2 linked regions of the Homo sapiens genome follow. The protein of the gene in region 2 interacts with the protein of the main gene of each other region in a biochemical or structural test. Each region holds a gene or a part of one and is shown on either strand. Other genes may lie near its edges.

Evidence for each region.
Region 1: the proteins of BCL11A (region 2) and NR2E1 form a complex in vitro, tested with the Homo sapiens proteins (one study listed by BioGRID).

Annotation. Positions count from the first base shown.
Region 1 is NC_000006.12:108,180,831-108,191,212, reverse strand, and holds the end of NR2E1 (nuclear receptor subfamily 2 group E member 1), read right to left. Parts: coding exon 10,257-10,382; intron 9,668-10,256; coding exon 9,562-9,667; intron 3,913-9,561; coding exon 3,750-3,912; 3' UTR 2,408-3,749; downstream 1-2,407. UniProt on the Homo sapiens protein: Orphan receptor that binds DNA as a monomer to hormone response elements (HRE) containing an extended core motif half-site sequence 5'-AAGGTCA-3' in which the 5' flanking nucleotides participate in determining receptor specificity.
Region 2 is NC_000002.12:60,458,367-60,469,464, reverse strand, and holds part of BCL11A (BCL11 transcription factor A), read left to right. Parts: intron 1-631; coding exon 632-733; intron 734-7,040; coding exon 7,041-9,061; 3' UTR 9,062-11,098. UniProt on the Homo sapiens protein: Transcription factor. Associated with the BAF SWI/SNF chromatin remodeling complex. Binds to the 5'-TGACCA-3' sequence motif in regulatory regions of target genes, including a distal promoter of the HBG1 hemoglobin subunit gamma-1 gene.

The sequences.
Region 1 (10,382 bases), on a different chromosome or scaffold from region 2:
GTGGTGGCGCACCCCTGCAATCCCAGCTACTCCAGAGGCTGAGACACGAGAATCACTTAGAATCCAGGAACTCGGGAGGTGGAGGTTGCAGTGAGCCGAGATCGGGCCATTGCACTCTACCCTGGGAGACAGAGTGAGACTCTGTCAAAAAAAAAAAAAAAAAAAAAGGAGAAGCATTGAAGACAATTTTTTCTTTCTTACTGGAATAATCATTTGGCTGAATGCATCTCTTATTTGTCCATTTGGATTGTATATCTTGAACTTGTGTATTCACGGACCACTGTTGAGCCTCCCCCACAACACCAGCCATAGAGAATATCTGCTACTGAGCTTTAAATTCTGGGCCTTCTCAAATGTTGAAAGCCAGGCTTGCTTTTTTTTTTTTTTTTAAATAATGACAGAGATGCCCAAAAGAAAAGCAATCCCAGTAGGAATCAGTATTCTGTGGCTTGTCACAAGAATCTTACTCCCTTTTAATTTTCCTGAGAATATTTATAATAGACTAAAGTAGATTGTGATTGTACTAGATTTTGTTATAGTTCAGTGAATCTTCTCTCCTCACTCCACCTCTACGGGAGGAGTGCACTTCTCTGCCCATTTAAGGTTGGGAAGGTTGACCATCGATCTTGCTGTGGCCGGGGGAAAGTAAGCAATGTGAAGTGAGTAGCAGCTGTAAATGTGTTTGCATCAGCCTCTTGCACTTCTGCACGTTGCCATGAAAAGAAGCTATCCTAGGAAAGCTGCTAGTCCAGGATGAGGAAACCCTGAAGCTTATTTATTTATTTATTATTGAGACAGGGTCTCACTCTGTCACCAGGCTGGAGTGCAGTAGCATGATCACAGCTCACTGCAGCCTCGACTTCCTGGGCTCAAGTGATCCTCCCACCTTGGCCTCCCAAATAACTAGGACCACAGGTGCACATGACGACACCTGGCTAATTTTTTGTATTTTTAGTAGAGACTGGGTTCCACCTTGTTGCACAGGCTAGTCTCGAACTCCTGGGCTTGTGATCTGCCTGTCTCAGCCTCCCAAAGTGCTGGGATTATAGGTGTGAGTCACCTCCCCCAGACTCCCTGGAGCATATTAAACCCAAACTATAGCCTGGAGTCAGCTCCAGCTGAGCCCAGCCAAGCCCTGCACAGCCACATGAGGCTGGCAGTCCTGTGAGCAAGTTATAAGAGTTTGTTGCTGTAAGCTTTGAGGGATGTTTGTTATTCAGTATTATTGAAGGAAAACTTGACTGATACACAGATGAACAGCCTTGGACCCATCACTCAGCTTTACTAAATCTTGTCATTCATCTCATATTTGTTTGAGATTTTTTTCTTATGAAATTAACCATTACAGAAACATTTGAGGGTCCTGTTATACCCTTCACCCATCCCATCTCTTCTTGGAAGTAGCCACTATCCAGCAGTTAGTGTTTATAATACTCATGCCTGTTTTAAATGTTTCCTATACATTTATATGCCCATAAACATTGTCTAGTATTGTTCTGTAGGTTGTAAAACTTTATATAAATGATACCAAGCTGTATGTGCCCTCTGCAATTTACTTTCCCCATAACACACACAAACACACTGTATTTCAGATTTACCCATGTTGATACATTAGCTCTAGCCATTCACTTTGCCTACGGTAACATTGTCTGTATTCACCACAATGTACCTATTATCTGTCAATGGATACTAAAGTTGTTAAATACGAACAGTGTTGCAAGGGACATTCTTACACAGTCTTTGAGTACTGTGCTTTTCTTTAAGACCAATTCTCATTCTCCGTAGAATAAGTAGACAAGAAGTGCACAGCTGATTGAAATTTCACATATACGGTCCGCAAGACCATTTTAGCAAGAGCAGAGGCACAAGCATCTCTTGCTGGAGCTGCCACCCAAAAGGAGTCTACAGTGCCTGTGGCCTTGGGCACCTCTGATGGCCTTTGCTTGTGGGACCGGTGCCTTAAGACTTGCTGGGAACATCTGGATGACATTTCTACTGCTCCCTCCACATCTTACTCACCATATGAACTTTATCATACTTTATCTTTTTGATCATTAAATGATTTCAAGTGACTGGTCAGGATTGAAATGTTGGCAAGAGAGTTAGAAACAGAGGAAGGAATGAAGACTCTGTTAATCGGCCTCCTTCCTCCTCACACAGCAATTTTTCTAACAGATGCAATTACATTTGAGAGCTGTAGAGAACAGAATCTTACGTTTTATTTCTTTATTCATCATTTTCCAAATGGTATTCACTGTAAGAAGGAAATTGCCTTTGTAGTTCAGTTCTGCAGGCTCTGTGCTGGAGTGCTCCGAGCTTCAGTTTTAACACCAGCTGCTGCCCCTACCTTGTTTCTGGTGGGTGAGAACCAGCCAGGGAGGGAGGGTAAGAAATCAGAAAGAGTTCATTTAAATTCAATATATTTTTATTCTTTGTAAATACAATGAGTACAACCTTTTAACTTCACAAATCAGTTAATTCACTTTGTACAAGAAAAGTTTTACTCATCCTATGATAGTCCAAGTGCTGAATTTTTTTTCCTCAGTGCTAGTACCTAATAAATCAAAATGTGAAAAGTACAGCAGCTATTTAAAAATGTTTGTTTCTACATTTCCATAAGTATAGAGTCATACCAAAGGAGCAGCTTAAAGTGTAGGACGGTGTGTGTGTGTGTGTGTGTGTGTGTGTGTGTGTGTGTGTGTGTGTGTGTTCATTCAAGGCTTTACTAGAAACCAGTTTTCGGAAAGGCATTGAAGAGTCTCAGGCTGTTAGCAATGGATCAGTCAAGAACCCTTTTAGCATTCATTCATCTCCTTGAAGTTCCTTCTGCAATTACGTCCATATTCGTTTCCTGTCTGGTGTGACTTGCTGCACCACGAGTTTGGACCCCCACTGCCTTTGGTTTCAGCACTATGTTAACGGGACAGCAATCTACCTCACTCAATCACTCATCTCCACTTTATTTGGTTTTGCTGTTTTTATTCATCCTCCCTTGACTTATGTTCTTTTAGTAAAGCTCTTCTCTTTTTGACATGTTATCCAACCTGAAGTCCTGGTGAGAATCTCATTTTGTCCATCAATTCCTTTGACAAGGTTGCCTGGCCTATGGTATTAAAAAAGAAGAAGAAAGAACAAAAGAAAGAGAAAGAAAAGAAAAAAGAAGATAGAGAAAAAGCAAATCACATGGCATAAGCTACTTTTCACTTATTAACTCAGTTCTGAAGGCCACTTAATAATGTATTACAATAGAGGGGAAACTTTTGATAACACTTTTAATTTAAAACCTACCATTATTTTTAAAATAAATGCTCCAACATAACGTAGTTTTGAAGGCCGCAGTACGATGTTATACACAGAGCTATATTTGGTTACCAAACTTTGTATGCTAAAAAGGAAGAGAAAGCACTACTTATGTTTCAGCTTTTGATCGTTCAGCCTGATCTTCCAGGTAAGAGGCAGAATGGCACGGCCTGTGGCAACCCCCAGTTTGCCCCCTCCCAGGGCATGGCAGCAGTGAGTTTTCAGTGCAGGCGGTCCTGTTGCACCCCTCTCCTTCCCACCCGCCCTATCCTGGTCAGGGCGGCAGGTCATAGCTACTGGAATGCTTTGTGTCAATTGGCATTTTTTTCCTGAAGGCTACACATTCCCCGGTATATGCTTCCTGAAGGGTTTGTTAGTTGAGGCTTGTTCTCCATGGGTTGAAGTTCATCTGATACTGTCCCATCCTGAAAAGTGGGTATCTTGTGAGCTTAGATATCACTGGATTTGTACATATCTGAAAGCAGTCTTGTAATTGGCACATTGCCGATGGTTTTTTTGAAAAACACTTCTTCTATAGTTGATGGGCTAATAGAACGTAAAGCTGGCAAAAGCAACAGGAGTTTTCCAAAGCGACAGGGTTGAGTGGGATATCTGGAATGTGAGAAGCCATGAAAACAAGGTCAGAGGCCATTACTTATGGAAACTAACGTCTTACACTTGAACACACATCATCTCCAGCATTGCTGATCTAGGTCTCTTGAATAACACAGTATCCCTGCAGCAAAGTTCTGGACAGGCACTGTTGTCCCCGTTTTGCAGGTAGACTACTTGAGGCAGGGAGACCATAAATGATGCTGCCAAAATCACACGGACACCCTCTCTACATTAACAAATGGATTGCATTTTGTTTGGGAAAAAAAAAGAAATTTAAGAAGCATAATACTAATTTTAAGCCAAATAATAAATTTAAGGTTTCCATTATAGAAAACGACCAGGGCATTGAGGATAAGGCTAGCAACAGAACCCATGTTTTCTAATTCTAAGGACTCCTCAAGGCTATTTCCCTCAAATAAAATGGCTTCTTTTTCTAAGCAATTCTCCAAATTATTATTCAGGCATTATACTTAGTCTCTCTCAGGAATAATTCCATCCTTATTACACTGCAAATTAAAGACTAAGTTCTGTTGGGTGGCAGTGCCACCCAACTCTCATGTCAATGAAATTGGCATGTAATTAAAGATGTGAGAAATTGCTTAACAATTTCCTCTTTTGATGTCCAACATATATCTGTGCTCAGATGTGCAAGTTCAATCTTCTGCTGCCTTTAGATGCCTGCAAGCCACCTCCTCACTGCAGCCCTGATACTTCTTCAGCCAATAGTTAGAATTAGATATCAATATACATAAGGAGAGCTCCCTCCACTGAAATGAAACACCTAAAACCTGAACTTCCGGGATACACATCTGTGACTAAGCTGGGTTCAACCCAGGCCACAAGGTGCTAGAAGCTAAGGGATATCAAAATTCCTTCGAAGGAGTCAGGTGGCTGTGTTTAACTGCCTGATAACTCCACCCTGCAAATAAAGTTCAGGGGAGCAACTTTCATGCTTGTCTAAATATTTAGCTCTGGGCACATAAGAGTCCTTCACTTCCACAGAATACAAGGCTTATAGTTCATCTGGGCCTCTCAGGACCTCAGCTGGCTCTTTCACTGCCCAGCTTCATGACCACCTGCAGATAGGGGCCACCAGACCACATCTAGTAGTGTGGTGTGGAAATGGTGAAGCTTACCTGCATTAAAAAAAAATACTTAAATCCTACCACTTGTTCTCCTTGTTTAATGTATTTCTAATGTTTCTTGGAAAGTAATCCCCAAATCCGTGTCTCCCTTTCACCTTGGCCACTTCTTTTCAACAGCTCTATTTCCCTTCCCAGGACCAGGCATAGTAGAGATAATTCTTCAGCAAGTCGGAGGCAGTGGCTGCCTGGACGACCTCTGCCATCTGCAGCATCCACCCAACATGCTGAACATTTCCCGTGGTGAGAAACCACTGTGAGAAATAATCACCTTCAGAAAGGATGAATTTGGGGGAATCTATAGACAACCAACTCCTGATTTTCTGCGATTAGATTACCCACTCATCTACTCTCCCACTTATTTTATTCTTTAGTTGGGAAAGGGTTGGTTAGTCAGTCAACAAAAATTAATTGTCTATTACATATAGCATACTGTACTACTACCAGAAACAATAGCAATGTATGAGGTCAGGTGTGGTGGCTCATACCTGTAATCCCAGCACTTTGGGAGGCTGAGGCAAGAGCATCGCTTGAGCCCAGGAGTTCAAGATGAGCCTGGGCAACATAGCAAGGGCTCATCTCTACAAAAATTCGCTGGGCACCTGTAGTCCCAGATACTCAGAAGGCAGAGGTGGGAGAATTGCTTGAGCCTCAGAGGCAGAGGTTGCAGTGAGCCATGATTGCACCACTGCAATGCAGCCTGGGCATCCAAAACAAAAACAATGTGTGTGTGTGTGTGTGTGTGTATGTGTGTGTGCGTGTGTGTGTGTGTGTGTTAGAGAGAGAAGGTCTGACTAATCAAAATTATTTTTTAGAATATCTATGCCCTTGTCTTCATCCATTAGCATCAATAATTGGATTTTCTTTTAGGTTTAAGTGTTTTAGGTCTATTACAGATTTGCATATTTGATCTTCAGTTATAGAATATAGTTTGTGTGGAATGTCAATTCCTAGCCTTCTCCTTACGTCCTCGATAATTAGAGAAATAGCTTAGAGAGCTGTAATATACAATTAGGCTCAGTTTCAGTTTGCATGTTAAGTTTTCATTTCAAGTTCAGGTTTTATTTTTCTAGACAGGAAAGTGCTGGAGGAAAAAGTGTTCACTGATTTGAAGGGCTAAGAAATAAGGCATAGTCATTTTTGTCACATGTATGACCCTAGATATAAATATTAAATTACAGCTGTAGCTGATATCAGAATGAAATAAGAATTCCATGAAATAAGAAATTCCATAATTCCATTATTTAATAAGAAATAAGATACTTATTTGATATTTACTATTCTAATATTTAATAGAAATAATAAGAATTCCATGGCAAAGCAGATGTGTTTTTTCCACACATAATTTTCTTCTTTTGCGGTGTTGGGGAGATGTACTTTACTTGCCATTTCTCTAAAATAGGCTGTTGTTAACCCATGGTTGAATTCTCTCGGGCCACCCTATCAGCAGCTCCTGGCACACCAGGCTCCCCTCCTCACTCACCTCTCTGGCACTTCCCACAGGACCCCTACCAGCTCCTCCACCACTCTCAGGACACATCTTCTCCCCTGCTGAAATCCTCCTCCCATTGAAGGACCAATTCACATGTTCTTTCCTCCACCCATCAGACTTTGAGCTTTTCTGATTGTCCCTCACTCCCTCTGACTAGGATTCATCTGTCACACTCCCCACATTGCTTTCCTCTCTTCTCTAGTTTGGATTGGAGTGACACTGCTGCCCACTTCTTGCAATGATAAGGGGCAGTGTCTTGCTCCTTCTGGTATCCCATATCGCCCACCTGCAGCCCTGCATGTGGCCAGTACTCGGCAAAGGCTTGACTGGATCAATAACTGGATACCACGTCCTTCTCATTTTTAAGTTCTTAATACCATAATGGCTCTAAATGTCAAAGGTCAGTTAGGACATACAAGTTAGTTTGTTTTTGTTTTTTTGTCTTTTTAATTTTTTTGTTTGTTTTTTAGACGGAGTCTCACTCACTCTGTTACCTGGGGCTGGAGTGCAGTGGCACAATCTCGGCTCACTGCAACCTCCACTTCCCAGCTTCAAGCAGTTCTCCTGCCTCAGCCTCCTGAGTAGCTGGGACTACAGGTGCACGTCATGACGCCCAGCTAACTTTTCTATTTTTGGTAGAGACGGGTTTCACCATGTTGGCCAGGCTGGTGTTGAACTCCTGACCTCAGGTAATCCGCCCTCCTTGAACTCCCAAAGTGCTTGGGATTACAGGTGTGAGCCACTGTGCCCGGCCTACAAGTCAGTAGAAGTACCCAGATTATGTACTGCTCCATTTAATAAATTTGAACAAATATTAACTGCCTACTATATATATTCTGTAATTCAATATGCATTTAAAATTCAAATCCTGGCATTTTAATTTGAAAAAACATATACAGGTGCACTATCTGTCAACATAGTTTCAGTGATATTCCATAGACAGGGAACAGTTTTATTCATTTAGTATTCAAAAGAGGTTTACGATAGAAATAGAGAGACTCTAGCAGAAGTGGTATCACCCCAAATGGACAGAGTTGACTTGGGATTTCTCTGACCCATTAGTTGAGGGAGGCATTAACAGCCTCTACCCATTTGATGTATTTATTCCCCCCACAGTGTCTATAGCTGATGTTGAGATTATGGAGCTGAGCTTTCACAGATTCCTTTCAAATCAGCCTAGAGAAGAGTAACTCTATTCTAACTTCAAATCTACCAGTCCTAACTCAGGAAACTAGAAAGTTTCCATTTCTCTTTAAAAGCCTGGCTTTTTTTTTAAATGGCATAATAAAATTTACACTTCTTCTTTTTTTTTTTTTTAAATTTTTGGTGGAGATGGGGTCTTGCCATGTTGTGCCCAGGCTGGTCTCGAACTCTTGAGCTCAAGTGAACTGCCTGCCTTGGCCTCCCAAAATGCTGGGATTACAGGTGTGGAGCCACCTCAGCCCCCAGTCTATACTTCTTAATGGGCTTGCCCAGTGCTGGGCCAGGAGGAGCTTTGTTGGAGCCCCAGTCTCTGAGAGTTCCTACAAACAGCCAAAAACAGCCTCTGCCTGTGGGCCCTGCATGGCCAGAAGTAACCTGGTAGATGTTATGACACAAAATAACAGATACCAGTCACCAAGGCCAAACAACAGTTATGATAGGTGAAAAGATGGCTTCTTTAGGCTGGGCACAGTGGCCCAGGCCTGTAATCCCAGCACTTTGGGAGACTTAGGTGGGAGGATCACTTGAGGCCAGGAGTTCGAGACCAGCCTGGGCAACATAGCAAGACCTTGTCTCTATAAAAAGTTTAAAAATTAGCTGGGTGTGCCGGGCATGGTGGCTCACACCTGTAATCCCAGCACTTTGGGAGGTCAAGGCAGGCAGATCACAAGTTCAGGAGTTCGAGACCTGCCTGGCCAACACGGTGAAACCCCGTCTCTACTGAAAATACAAAAATTAGCTGGGCGTGGTGGCAGGCACCTGTAATCCCAGCTACTTGGGAGGCTGAGGCAGGAGAATCACTTGAACCCGGAAGGCGAAGGTTGCAGTGAGCCGAGATTGCACCGCTACACTCCAGCCTGGGTGAAAGAGTGAAACTCTGTCTCAAAAAAAAAAAAAAAAAAAAATTAGCTGGGTGTGGTGGCATGCACCTATAGTCTCAGCTACTCAATAGGCTGAGGTGGGAGGATCACATGAGCCCATGAGTTCAAGGCTGCAGTGAGCCATGCTCACATGCCACTGCACTTCAGCCTTCCAGCCTGGGCAACAGAGCAAGACCCTGTCTCAAAAAAAAAGATAGCCTCTCTGGAAAGTTCTCTCATCCTTTTATTTGAGATTGGCATCTGAAGAAAGTCACCTGTGTTTTCTCAAGGATGATGTGGCCACTCTCTCACATACCAACCATTACACTTTGAGCTTCTTTTTTTTTTTTTTTTTTTTTGAGACGGAGTCTCGCTCTGTCGCCCAGGCTGGAGTGCAGTGGCACAATATCGGCTCACTGCAAGTTCCACCTCCCAGGTTCACGACATTCTCCTGCCTCAGCCTTCCGAGTAGCTGCTGGGACTACAGGTGCCCACCACCACACCCAGCTAATTTTTTTGTATTATTTAGTAGAGACGGGGTTTCACTGTGTTAGCCAGGATGGTCTCGATCTTCTGACCTCGTGATCCACCCACCTCGGCCTCCCAAAGTGCTGGGATTACAGGCGTGAGCCACTGTGCCCAGCCTAGGCTTCATTTTTGACCCCTCCATACCCATTCACACAAATGTTGTTCCATTATTTTGATGGATCAATTTGTTCCGCCAGGACAACTGTAATATGTCTGGCAGTGCTTTCACTTTGATCATCTAATTAGATTTGCTCCTCTCACCCACCCTGAGAGATAGGTAAGGACATGGATTCTCCCTAAATTAACTGGCTGGCAACAAGATAATTAGTCACAATGTTTGAACTGGCTTATTACCGCCTGCTCAGGCATTCACAATGGAGGCAATTTTCTTAAGTACATGTTCAAGGCAAACAAGGGTCACCTGGTATGGATGTAGCTGTTGAGCGTTAGCTGAGCCTCATCTTGAAGGGCTGCAATGGCGGCAGCATTCCGGAAACTTCTCAGTTCAGAACCACTATGTGTAGGAACTAGAAATGAAGACCAGGAAACTGTGATAGACAGCATAGAAATTGCATCTGGGAGCCGAGCGCAGTGCTCACGCCTGTAATCCCAGCACTTTGGGAGGCCGAGGCAGGCGGATCACTTGAGGTCAGCAGTTCGAGACCAACCTGGCCAACATGGTGAAACCCTGTTTCTACTAAAAATACAAAAATTAGCCAGGCATGGTGGCATGTGTCTGTAATCCCAGCTACTTGGGAGGCTGAGGCAGGAGAATTGCTTAAACCCAGGAGGCAGAGGTTGCAGTGAGCTGAGATGGTGCCATTGGACTCCAGCCTGGGTGACAAGAGCAAGACACCATCTCCACAAAAATTTAAAAAATAAAAAAAAAGAAAGAAAAAAAGAAATTGGGTCTGGGAATGCACCTCTCTGGAAGTTGATGCCCAGCAGAACATGCAGGTTCCCATAGCAATAAAAAATGGGGCCAGATTAAGAGTATCAGCTCCCTTGAAAACCATCACCTCTTTTTGCAAAGGTCAGTTCAGACTTCGAGGTGGCTGAATTAGTGAGGTGGCAAAACTGGGGAAGGAGAAGAAACAGGGGTCTGTGTCTGCTTACCGGCTTTGAAAGTGACGATGCATTTTAGACAGGCAAATTCAGTAGCATCTAACCGGAGTTGTCTAAATCGAGCCACCACCTCTTGTAAAGCCTGTATTTCAGATATGATCTTGTTCAGCTTCTGGG
Region 2 (11,098 bases):
GTGTAAGGTTTCCAGTTGACAGGATTCTAGAGTATGGCCCAGCTCAGTCCAGAAATGCCCAGGTTTCCCCTATCACTGAAGGCGCTATCATAAATATAGCATGGGAAGAGGGGGGCAGAGGGACAGAGAAAGCAAAGTGGGACTCTGTCCCATAAAAAACGATTCACAAATCTACTCATTTCCTATCAGCATTTTGCTTTTTGCTTGGGTTTGTCTATAAAGTAAAGTTAATGTATGCATGTAAACCAGCCTTGCAGATAAAATCCCCCCATGTTTCCAGGCTACCCACAATATTACCAGTTTTCCCCTTGCTGCTTACACATCTTCTTTCCACAAGACAATAATCAAACAACAACAAATAAATAAGCAAATGAACCAAAGACCACCTCTCCCCTTTCCTAAAACAAACCCTTTCACTTTTGTCAAAAAGACCGAAATTGAAAACAAAACAGAAACTCTGGGAAATAACTCACCACTCTTCTTTTGTTTCAGGCCTTGGGCCTGTTAACTATCTGCAAGGCTGTTGTAATGATGTTGTAATCTATTTTAATGGAATTGAAATGTGATATCCTGTGGTTTATGATGCACGTTGTTTGTAGCTGTAGTGCTTGATTTTGGGTTTCTTTCACAGATAAACTTCTGCACTGGAGGGGCCTCTCCTCCCCTCGTTCTGCACATGGAGCTCTAATCCCCACGCCTGGGATGAGTGCAGAATATGCCCCGCAGGGTATTTGTAAGTTGAGCCTTATTTCTTCTACAAATGTCCATGTGTATAGAGATGAGAATTTCTGGAAATTGCCCTTACTTTTTAAGTACTGAAGGAGTTACTTCCAAAATAGATTGTCATATGTATTATTCCATTACTCACTTGGCAGCCGCTCCCCACTCCACTCAGCCCCAGAGGGACTTCTTCCCTCCCCTTTTTCTTTCCTCACTGGAGGCTGGGAGCTGATAGTAGCTCATCCCTGTGGGTCTTCTCCCCAGGGTCTTGTCTTGCTCCGTGGCTAGTGATTGAAGATGCCTGTGCCTCTGGAGCCCATTTTATTACTGGACATTCACTCCTGTGGCCTCATTTAGGACTTTGGGTATAGTCCATGGCACACATCTTTAGCCAAGGCCAGAATCAAAAGGAGTCAGTTTAGGGTTATTCCAGAGTTATTCCAATGCATATTCCTTATGTATTTACATGTGTATTTGAACATAGTATATGTTGTATATTCATGCCCACACATAATTTTGACTAATTTTTCTCCTGGTTTTAGAGAAAAATGCACATCATTGTAGTTAAAATGTGAAGGCTCTACTATCACCACCACCACCACCACCATCACCACCACCACCACAACCACCACTGCCACCATCACCACCACCACCACAACCACCACCATCACTACCACCACCACCATCACCACCAGTACCATCACCACCATCACCACCACTACCACCACCACCACCATCACCACCACCACCATTACCACCACCATCACTACCACCACCACCATCACCACCAGTACCATCACCACCACCACCATCACTACCACCACCACCACCACCACCATTACCACCACCATCACTACCACCACCACCATCACCACCAGTACCATCACCACCAGTAGCATCACCACCACCACCACCATCACCATCACCACCAGTACCATCACCACCAGTACCATCACCATCAACACCACCATCTCCACCACCACCATTACCACCACCATCACTACCACCACCACCATCACCACCAGTACCATCACCACCAGTACCATCACCACCACCACCACCATCACCATCACCACCAGTACCATCACCATCATCACCACCATCACCACCACCACCATTACCACCACCATCACTACCACCACCACCACCATCACCACCACCACCATTACCACCACCATCACTACCACCACCACCATCACCAGTACCATCACCATCACCATCACCACCAGTACCATCACCATCATCACCACCATCACCACCACCACCATTACCACCACCATCACCACCACCACCATTACCACCACCATCACTACCACCACCACCATCACCAGTACCATCACCATCACCATCACCACCAGTACCATCACCATCATCACCACCATCACCACCACCACCATTACCACCACCATCACTACCACCACCACCACCATCACCACCACCACCATTACCACCACCATCACTACCACCACCACCACCATCACCACCACCACCATTACCACCACCATCACTACCACCACCACCATCACCAGTACCATCACCGCCATCACCACCACCATCACCACCACCACCACCACCATCACCACCACCACCACCACCATCACCACCAACACCACCATCACCACCACCACCACCACTACCACCACCATCATCACCACCACCACCACCACCACCACTGCCACCACCATTTACTTGTTCAAGTGAGCTTTTATAGTAGGGACCATTTTATGAAACTTAAATTTGTCCATTTATACAAATGTTTTCTGAAAGATACTGTTTTAGAAAATAATACAGTTTGCTTCTCTGTGTAGGAACACATGGTATGAATCATGCATGGCTAAAAGGTTAGGGGGTGGGCAGTGATTCCACCCTAAACACAAAAAAGCAGGTTCAAGAAGAAAAGAAGTGTGACATCTAATTTTTATTTGAAAGTAAATGAAAAATAACCTGCTGTGGAAAGAAAAAAAAAGAAAAGGAAAAAGGTCATGGAGAGAGAATAACAAAGAGCAAGATGCCAGAGTTAAGGCTCTAAGGGGGACTGTTTTTAGATGGGAGGGAGATGACACTTACCCATCTTGTAAATGGTATCTGAAGAGCAGGGCATGCACCCTGAGACCAGATTCAAAGCCAGTTGTTTATTTTTGTTAACTCCTAGGTAATCCTAGGTAACAAAGAGTTATTGTGTGAATTTCATAAGCCCTCAGGTCCTGAGGGCTGGGTGGTTCAGGGGTTAAAAGCACCTCATCTGCTCCCTTCCCCCAAGCTGGGCCTAAGCCTGGGTTAGGTCACAGATTGCAGAAGGTTTAGGAGGTTGGGCTCACGGTTTCTAGTCCCTGCATGCTGGCTGGGTGGGGAGAGCTCTCCTGTTGCTGGGGGCATCTGGGGCCTGCATGGGGCTGTGGAAACGGAGCCACTTTTGGAGGGAAGGGATAGAAGGGAGTTGAGCAGTTCAGAGGAGGGTGGAGTTGAGAGGCCAAGGGCTGTTGCCAGGGAAACATAGTTCTCGGTCTTCAGCCTGGTCTTCCTGAGGGCTGGGAGTTTGATTTGACTGGTAGGAAAGTCTGAGCTTGATAGGGAACCCCTGTCCTCTCCCACCTTCCCACAAAGGGAGGGTACATAGTTTGCTGGTGCCCCTGCTGGCAGGACCAATTTAGGAGTGACCAGAACAAGGTATGTGGAAGTGGGTTGTGGGGGTCCAGAAAGCTCTAGAACAAACCTGATGCCCATTCCACTTGGCGGCATTAACCTGCTGCCCCTGGCTTCCAGAGCTCATAGCACTTCCCTGTGGCCACTCTGCTGTGTGCCAGTCACCCCTGCTCTTTAACTAGAGCCTCCTTTTGGCCTGGGTTAAGGCCTGGACTGGGACCTTCCTCTGGAAGCCGTTCGGGGTGTGTAATGTGGTTAGTCATTACCCTCAGTAATTAATCACCCCTGGTAGTAATGAAAACTCACATTCACATTCGACCTGATAGTTTACAGAGGGCTTTTATATACTTCTGTCATTTGAACTTCCCAACAATTCTTACAGGTACTGTTTTTATGCTCATTTTACAGATAGGAATTCCAAGACTCAGAGAAATCAAATGACTATCCCAGAGTTACAATCTAGTGGATAATAGAGCTAGGCCTCCAGTCTCAGACCTCCTTGTTCTTCTGAATCTTGAGGCTTAGATCACATGACTTTTTCACATTGGTGACATACTAGAAATGGGGGTCATTCCTTCCCATAAAGTAAAATGAAATAAAATAAAAGCCAGTAGGTGGGCTAATAGCTGATTTTAACCCTTTTGATGTCTCAAGTTCCTATGCTTAGGGGCCAGGTGTCAGTTTATTGCTCTAAATCAAAACAATCCCCGTAAATGCCCAATGAGGCTCTCAAATTGAGAAGTTGATTTTCATCAGAGTAAATGAAGAATATTATTATATTTTACACATCAATAAATCAATGTAGCCCTAATTTTGCCACACAGGAAATCAATTCCAGTCTTTCTAAATCATCAAAGATGTTATGAACAAAGTAATTTCACAAATTATGGCAAGTAACACATTTATTGATGACTGCAGTTTAGGAATTTAGAATCTGTGAGCACTGTAATATAATATGGTACACCGGCATGAGCTGAGTGAAATACAGATTATATGGTGAAATTGTAATGCATCATTTGCTATTAGTGGACTGGTAATAATTACCAGTTTCAAAGCAGCTCTCTCCATGTAATCTTTAGTCTCAATCGTAACAGCCCTTCTCATTGACATTATGATTACACTAGCTGCCCTCATGATCTAGAATATCTAGTTGATGGGAATACTAAAATGCGATAGTGAAAACTGTATGTTGTATGCTCATTATAAGATAAAATGCCATTTTCTCTGACCTGATGTATGAGAGAGAGGGGAGGATAACATCACAGTGTTAACATACTGTAGCATGATCACATAACTGGCTCTGAAAAAAAGTTTAGGATGCTCAGGGCAGCAAAATAAAATGGACTTTTCTCATTTAAGCCTTTTTGAAAGGATACAAATGAGATCCTTGATGTAGTGCTGTATGCCACAGATTTTGGCATTTATCAATGACTACAATTCATGGCACATGTGAAACCAGCACCACTAATTATGAGTCTAGTCCTGGATTTCAATCGATGTTTTATAAGGTAAAATATAATTTTAAGGCATTTGGAGTGATGAACGTGTTAAGGACTTGGATTATCAGACAAATCTTTTTACTTGCCCAACTCAGATCGTCAGGCTAAATAGGAATGATAGTCACCCAGAGATCTAGGGAGGACAAGGAGGAAGCCACAGAGGATCATGTAGTTGGAACCAGATAGTTTTTTTTCCAGCCTATTTGGGACCCAAGTTATTGTTCAACAACAACAAAAAATTTATAAAAATGTTCTCAATGAAGCTTTTTATTTCCCTTTGAAGAGAGGAGGCAAACAAAAATAGGCAGATAATGTGATACTAATGTCAGCGTTTTCTTTCAAAATCTTTCTGCCTTTTTTCCCCCTTCCACATTAGACAAATGTTTGAAACCTAATTTTGGTATCTTACCATCTAATCTTGTTTAAGAGATTTACCCAGGAGTGAGATATATTGAGTGGGATTATAAATGCGTTGTAAAGTAAATTACAAGGTCAGGGCAGGAGTCCATTATTTAGACAAGTGCTTGAGCGAGGCTGGCTTATTTTGGAATACCAGTGTTTGGGGGCTCCTGAGAAGACCCTGCCGGCTTTTCTTTCTGACTTGCTAAATGGAGGCATCATATAATTGATTAATTCCTCATTCTCACTCTTAACCTCCCTGGTAGATTTTTTTTTTTTTTCCTTCTTAGAAAGTTACTGACAAATACTAGCTGTGGCCTTAAAGAACTCTTGCAGCCCTTCTTTTAAAAGAAGGAGAAAAGTTTGTTATTTCTCAGTTATATTTTAAGGCTTTTTTTTTCAGAATCTCTGGGAAGTTTTGTTTTTCTCATCCTCGTCCTTTGGCTACCATTACTTCTGCCCTTTTTAATGTTGCAGTTGACTAGTAAACTGTTGGTCAGTTATTCCATATATATATATATTTAATGTAGCTATCTCCCCATATATATTTAATTTAGCCATCTCCCCAAATGAAATATTTTGTGAAGTCAAGCTGGCCCTTCTTTGCCAAAGTGGCATTTACCACTCTTGGGTTCTTTTCAGCAAGGGAAATAATGTGACTTAAGCAGGGCCCCTCTCCAGACGGCTTGGCTACTGGCCAGAGTTGACTAGCTGAACTGTATCTTTCTGTTTCTTTCTCAACTGGAGCTGAGTCCCAGCCGAGGGCGCAGGATGTTGTATAATTTGGTTCACGTTGTTAGCCTCTCAAAACAATGAGGAGGAGGATAGTGTAGCATTTCTCAGCCTGCTGCCTGTCATGGCGCTGGCTGTTTTAACTGTTCCTTAAACTAGGATGCTGTGTCTGCTTAAGTCGGCACCAGCCACTCCTCCTAACTTTTCCAGACTTGCATTTGTCTGACCGGGGGACAACTCCTAAAGATTGGATACAGCCTATCCGTTAAATCTGAATGAAGTTTTTCTTTCAGATTTTTTAAACATTCTTTGAGATAAAAATGGACGTCCCCATGGGGTGTTGTGGAACCAAAATTGGGACTCACTGATCCTCCCACAGTCTGGGGTGTGAGAATGTTGCTAGTCTTTTTTCCACGGAAGTATTTTATGAGTACCCTCTCATTTTAACAATATCAACAATTAGTGTGTTTCAGGCTAATGCTGAAAGCATCTTTAGGGCCATAGAACATTGTAGTGAGTTGACCTTCTTCCCCTTTTTTGATACCTCTATGAAATGTTTGCCTATTTAGAAAGTTCACCTGTCACCCAGGGGGGAATAGAAAGCTGGGATTTAGGAAGCCAAAAAGTTTCCTTGGGTCACCTTGTCCAAGTTTCTCACTTAACAAGGAGGAAACAGAGGCACATGGAGATGAGATGGCTTGCCCCAAACTACAGCTGATGGAACTGGAAAGTTTAGAAGACATTTGTTGAGGTGCCTAGAATGTAGGGACCTTCATCCTCAAGCCAGAACTGGTCAGGATTTTTCTGCTTTGGGGATTGGATATAAAATTTCTAGAACTGAGTTTAATGGCAGGAAGATCAATTGGACCAATATTTACTGGGTACCCATGCTCAGACGTGCCAGGCACAGGGGGTAGGTCAGTGAGGGCTTAGGCCTTGGGGTTGAGGGGTGGGGGCAGGGAAGGCTGGAGGTGGAACATAAATAAGCAATTGCTGATGCCCGCCTCAGTGATTAAACATTGATGTTGGTGTTGTATTATTTTGCAGGTAAAGATGAGCCCAGCAGCTACACATGTACAACTTGCAAACAGCCATTCACCAGTGCATGGTTTCTCTTGCAACACGCACAGAACACTCATGGATTAAGAATCTACTTAGAAAGCGAACACGGAAGTCCCCTGACCCCGCGGGTTGGTATCCCTTCAGGACTAGGTGCAGAATGTCCTTCCCAGCCACCTCTCCATGGGATTCATATTGCAGACAATAACCCCTTTAACCTGCTAAGAATACCAGGATCAGTATCGAGAGAGGCTTCCGGCCTGGCAGAAGGGCGCTTTCCACCCACTCCCCCCCTGTTTAGTCCACCACCGAGACATCACTTGGACCCCCACCGCATAGAGCGCCTGGGGGCGGAAGAGATGGCCCTGGCCACCCATCACCCGAGTGCCTTTGACAGGGTGCTGCGGTTGAATCCAATGGCTATGGAGCCTCCCGCCATGGATTTCTCTAGGAGACTTAGAGAGCTGGCAGGGAACACGTCTAGCCCACCGCTGTCCCCAGGCCGGCCCAGCCCTATGCAAAGGTTACTGCAACCATTCCAGCCAGGTAGCAAGCCGCCCTTCCTGGCGACGCCCCCCCTCCCTCCTCTGCAATCCGCCCCTCCTCCCTCCCAGCCCCCGGTCAAGTCCAAGTCATGCGAGTTCTGCGGCAAGACGTTCAAATTTCAGAGCAACCTGGTGGTGCACCGGCGCAGCCACACGGGCGAGAAGCCCTACAAGTGCAACCTGTGCGACCACGCGTGCACCCAGGCCAGCAAGCTGAAGCGCCACATGAAGACGCACATGCACAAATCGTCCCCCATGACGGTCAAGTCCGACGACGGTCTCTCCACCGCCAGCTCCCCGGAACCCGGCACCAGCGACTTGGTGGGCAGCGCCAGCAGCGCGCTCAAGTCCGTGGTGGCCAAGTTCAAGAGCGAGAACGACCCCAACCTGATCCCGGAGAACGGGGACGAGGAGGAAGAGGAGGACGACGAGGAAGAGGAAGAAGAGGAGGAAGAGGAGGAGGAGGAGCTGACGGAGAGCGAGAGGGTGGACTACGGCTTCGGGCTGAGCCTGGAGGCGGCGCGCCACCACGAGAACAGCTCGCGGGGCGCGGTCGTGGGCGTGGGCGACGAGAGCCGCGCCCTGCCCGACGTCATGCAGGGCATGGTGCTCAGCTCCATGCAGCACTTCAGCGAGGCCTTCCACCAGGTCCTGGGCGAGAAGCATAAGCGCGGCCACCTGGCCGAGGCCGAGGGCCACAGGGACACTTGCGACGAAGACTCGGTGGCCGGCGAGTCGGACCGCATAGACGATGGCACTGTTAATGGCCGCGGCTGCTCCCCGGGCGAGTCGGCCTCGGGGGGCCTGTCCAAAAAGCTGCTGCTGGGCAGCCCCAGCTCGCTGAGCCCCTTCTCTAAGCGCATCAAGCTCGAGAAGGAGTTCGACCTGCCCCCGGCCGCGATGCCCAACACGGAGAACGTGTACTCGCAGTGGCTCGCCGGCTACGCGGCCTCCAGGCAGCTCAAAGATCCCTTCCTTAGCTTCGGAGACTCCAGACAATCGCCTTTTGCCTCCTCGTCGGAGCACTCCTCGGAGAACGGGAGTTTGCGCTTCTCCACACCGCCCGGGGAGCTGGACGGAGGGATCTCGGGGCGCAGCGGCACGGGAAGTGGAGGGAGCACGCCCCATATTAGTGGTCCGGGCCCGGGCAGGCCCAGCTCAAAAGAGGGCAGACGCAGCGACACTTGTGAGTACTGTGGGAAAGTCTTCAAGAACTGTAGCAATCTCACTGTCCACAGGAGAAGCCACACGGGCGAAAGGCCTTATAAATGCGAGCTGTGCAACTATGCCTGTGCCCAGAGTAGCAAGCTCACCAGGCACATGAAAACGCATGGCCAGGTGGGGAAGGACGTTTACAAATGTGAAATTTGTAAGATGCCTTTTAGCGTGTACAGTACCCTGGAGAAACACATGAAAAAATGGCACAGTGATCGAGTGTTGAATAATGATATAAAAACTGAATAGAGGTATATTAATACCCCTCCCTCACTCCCACCTGACACCCCCTTTTTCACCACTCCCCTTCCCCATCGCCCTCCAGCCCCACTCCCTGTAGGATTTTTTTCTAGTCCCATGTGATTTAAACAAACAAACAAACAAACAGAAGTAACGAAGCTAAGAATATGAGAGTGCTTGTCACCAGCACACCTGTTTTTTTTCTTTTTCTTTTTCTTTTTTCTTTTTCCTTTTTTTTTTTTTTCCTTTATGTTCTCACCGTTTGAATGCATGATCTGTATGGGGCAATACTATTGCATTTTACGCAAACTTTGAGCCTTTCTCTTGTGCAATAATTTACATGTTGTGTATGTTTTTTTTTAAACTTAGACAGCATGTATGGTATGTTATGGCTATTTTAAATTGTCCCTAATTCGTTGCTGAGCAAACATGTTGCTGTTTCCAGTTCCGTTCTGAGAGAAAAAGAGAGAGAGAGAGAAAAAGACCATGCTGCATACATTCTGTAATACATATCATGTACAGTTTTATTTTATAACGTGAGGAGGAAAAACAGTCTTTGGATTAACCCTCTATAGACAGAATAGATAGCACTGAAAAAAAATCTCTATGAGCTAAATGTCTGTCTCTAAAGGGTTAAATGTATCAATTGGAAAGGAAGAAAAAAGGCCTTGAATTGACAAATTAACAGAAAAACAGAACAAGTTTATTCTATCATTTGGTTTTAAAATATGAGTGCCTTGGATCTATTAAAACCACATCGATGGTTCTTTCTACTTGTTATAAACTTGTAGCTTAATTCAGCATTGGGTGAGGTAATAAACCTTAGGAACTAGCATATAATTCTATATTGTATTTCTCACAACAATGGCTACCTAAAAAGATGACCCATTATGTCCTAGTTAATCATCATTTTTCCTTTAGTTTAATTTTATAAACAAAACTGATTATACCAGTATAAAAGCTACTTTGCTCCTGGTGAGAGCTTAAAAGAAATGGGCTGTTTTGCCCAAAGTTTTATTTTTTTTAAACAATGATTAAATTGAATGTGTAATGTGCAAAAGCCCTGGAACGCAATTAAATACACTAGTAAGGAGTTCATTTTATGAAGATATTTGCTTTAATAATGTCTTTTTAAAAATACTGGCACCAAAAGAAATAGATCCAGATCTACTTGGTTGTCAAGTGGACAATCAAATGATAAACTTTAAGACCTTGTATACCATATTGAAAGGAAGAGGCTGACAATAAGGTTTGACAGAGGGGAACAGAAGAAAATAATATGATTTATTAGCACAACGTGGTACTATTTGCCATTTAAAACTAGAACAGGTATATAAGCTAATATTGATACAATGATGATTAACTATGAATTCTTAAGACTTGCATTTAAATGTGACATTCTTAAAAAAAGAAGAGAAAGAATTTTAAGAGTAGCAGTATATATGTCTGTGCTCCCTAAAAGTTGTACTTCATTTCTTTTCCATACACTGTGTGCTATTTGTGTTAACATGGAAGAGGATTCATTGTTTTTATTTTTATTTTTTTAATTTTTTCTTTTTTATTAAGCTAGCATCTGCCCCAGTTGGTGTTCAAATAGCACTTGACTCTGCCTGTGATATCTGTATCTTTTCTCTAATCAGAGATACAGAGGTTGAGTATAAAATAAACCTGCTCAGATAGGACAATTAAGTGCACTGTACAATTTTCCCAGTTTACAGGTCTATACTTAAGGGAAAAGTTGCAAGAATGCTGAAAAAAAATTGAACACAATCTCATTGAGGAGCATTTTTTAAAAACTAAAAAAAAAAAAACTTTGCCAGCCATTTACTTGACTATTGAGCTTACTTACTTGGACGCAACATTGCAAGCGCTGTGAATGGAAACAGAATACACTTAACATAGAAATGAATGATTGCTTTCGCTTCTACAGTGCAAGGATTTTTTTGTACAAAACTTTTTTAAATATAAATGTTAAGAAAAATTTTTTTTAAAAAACACTTCATTATGTTTAGGGGGGAACTGCATTTTAGGGTTCCATTGTCTTGG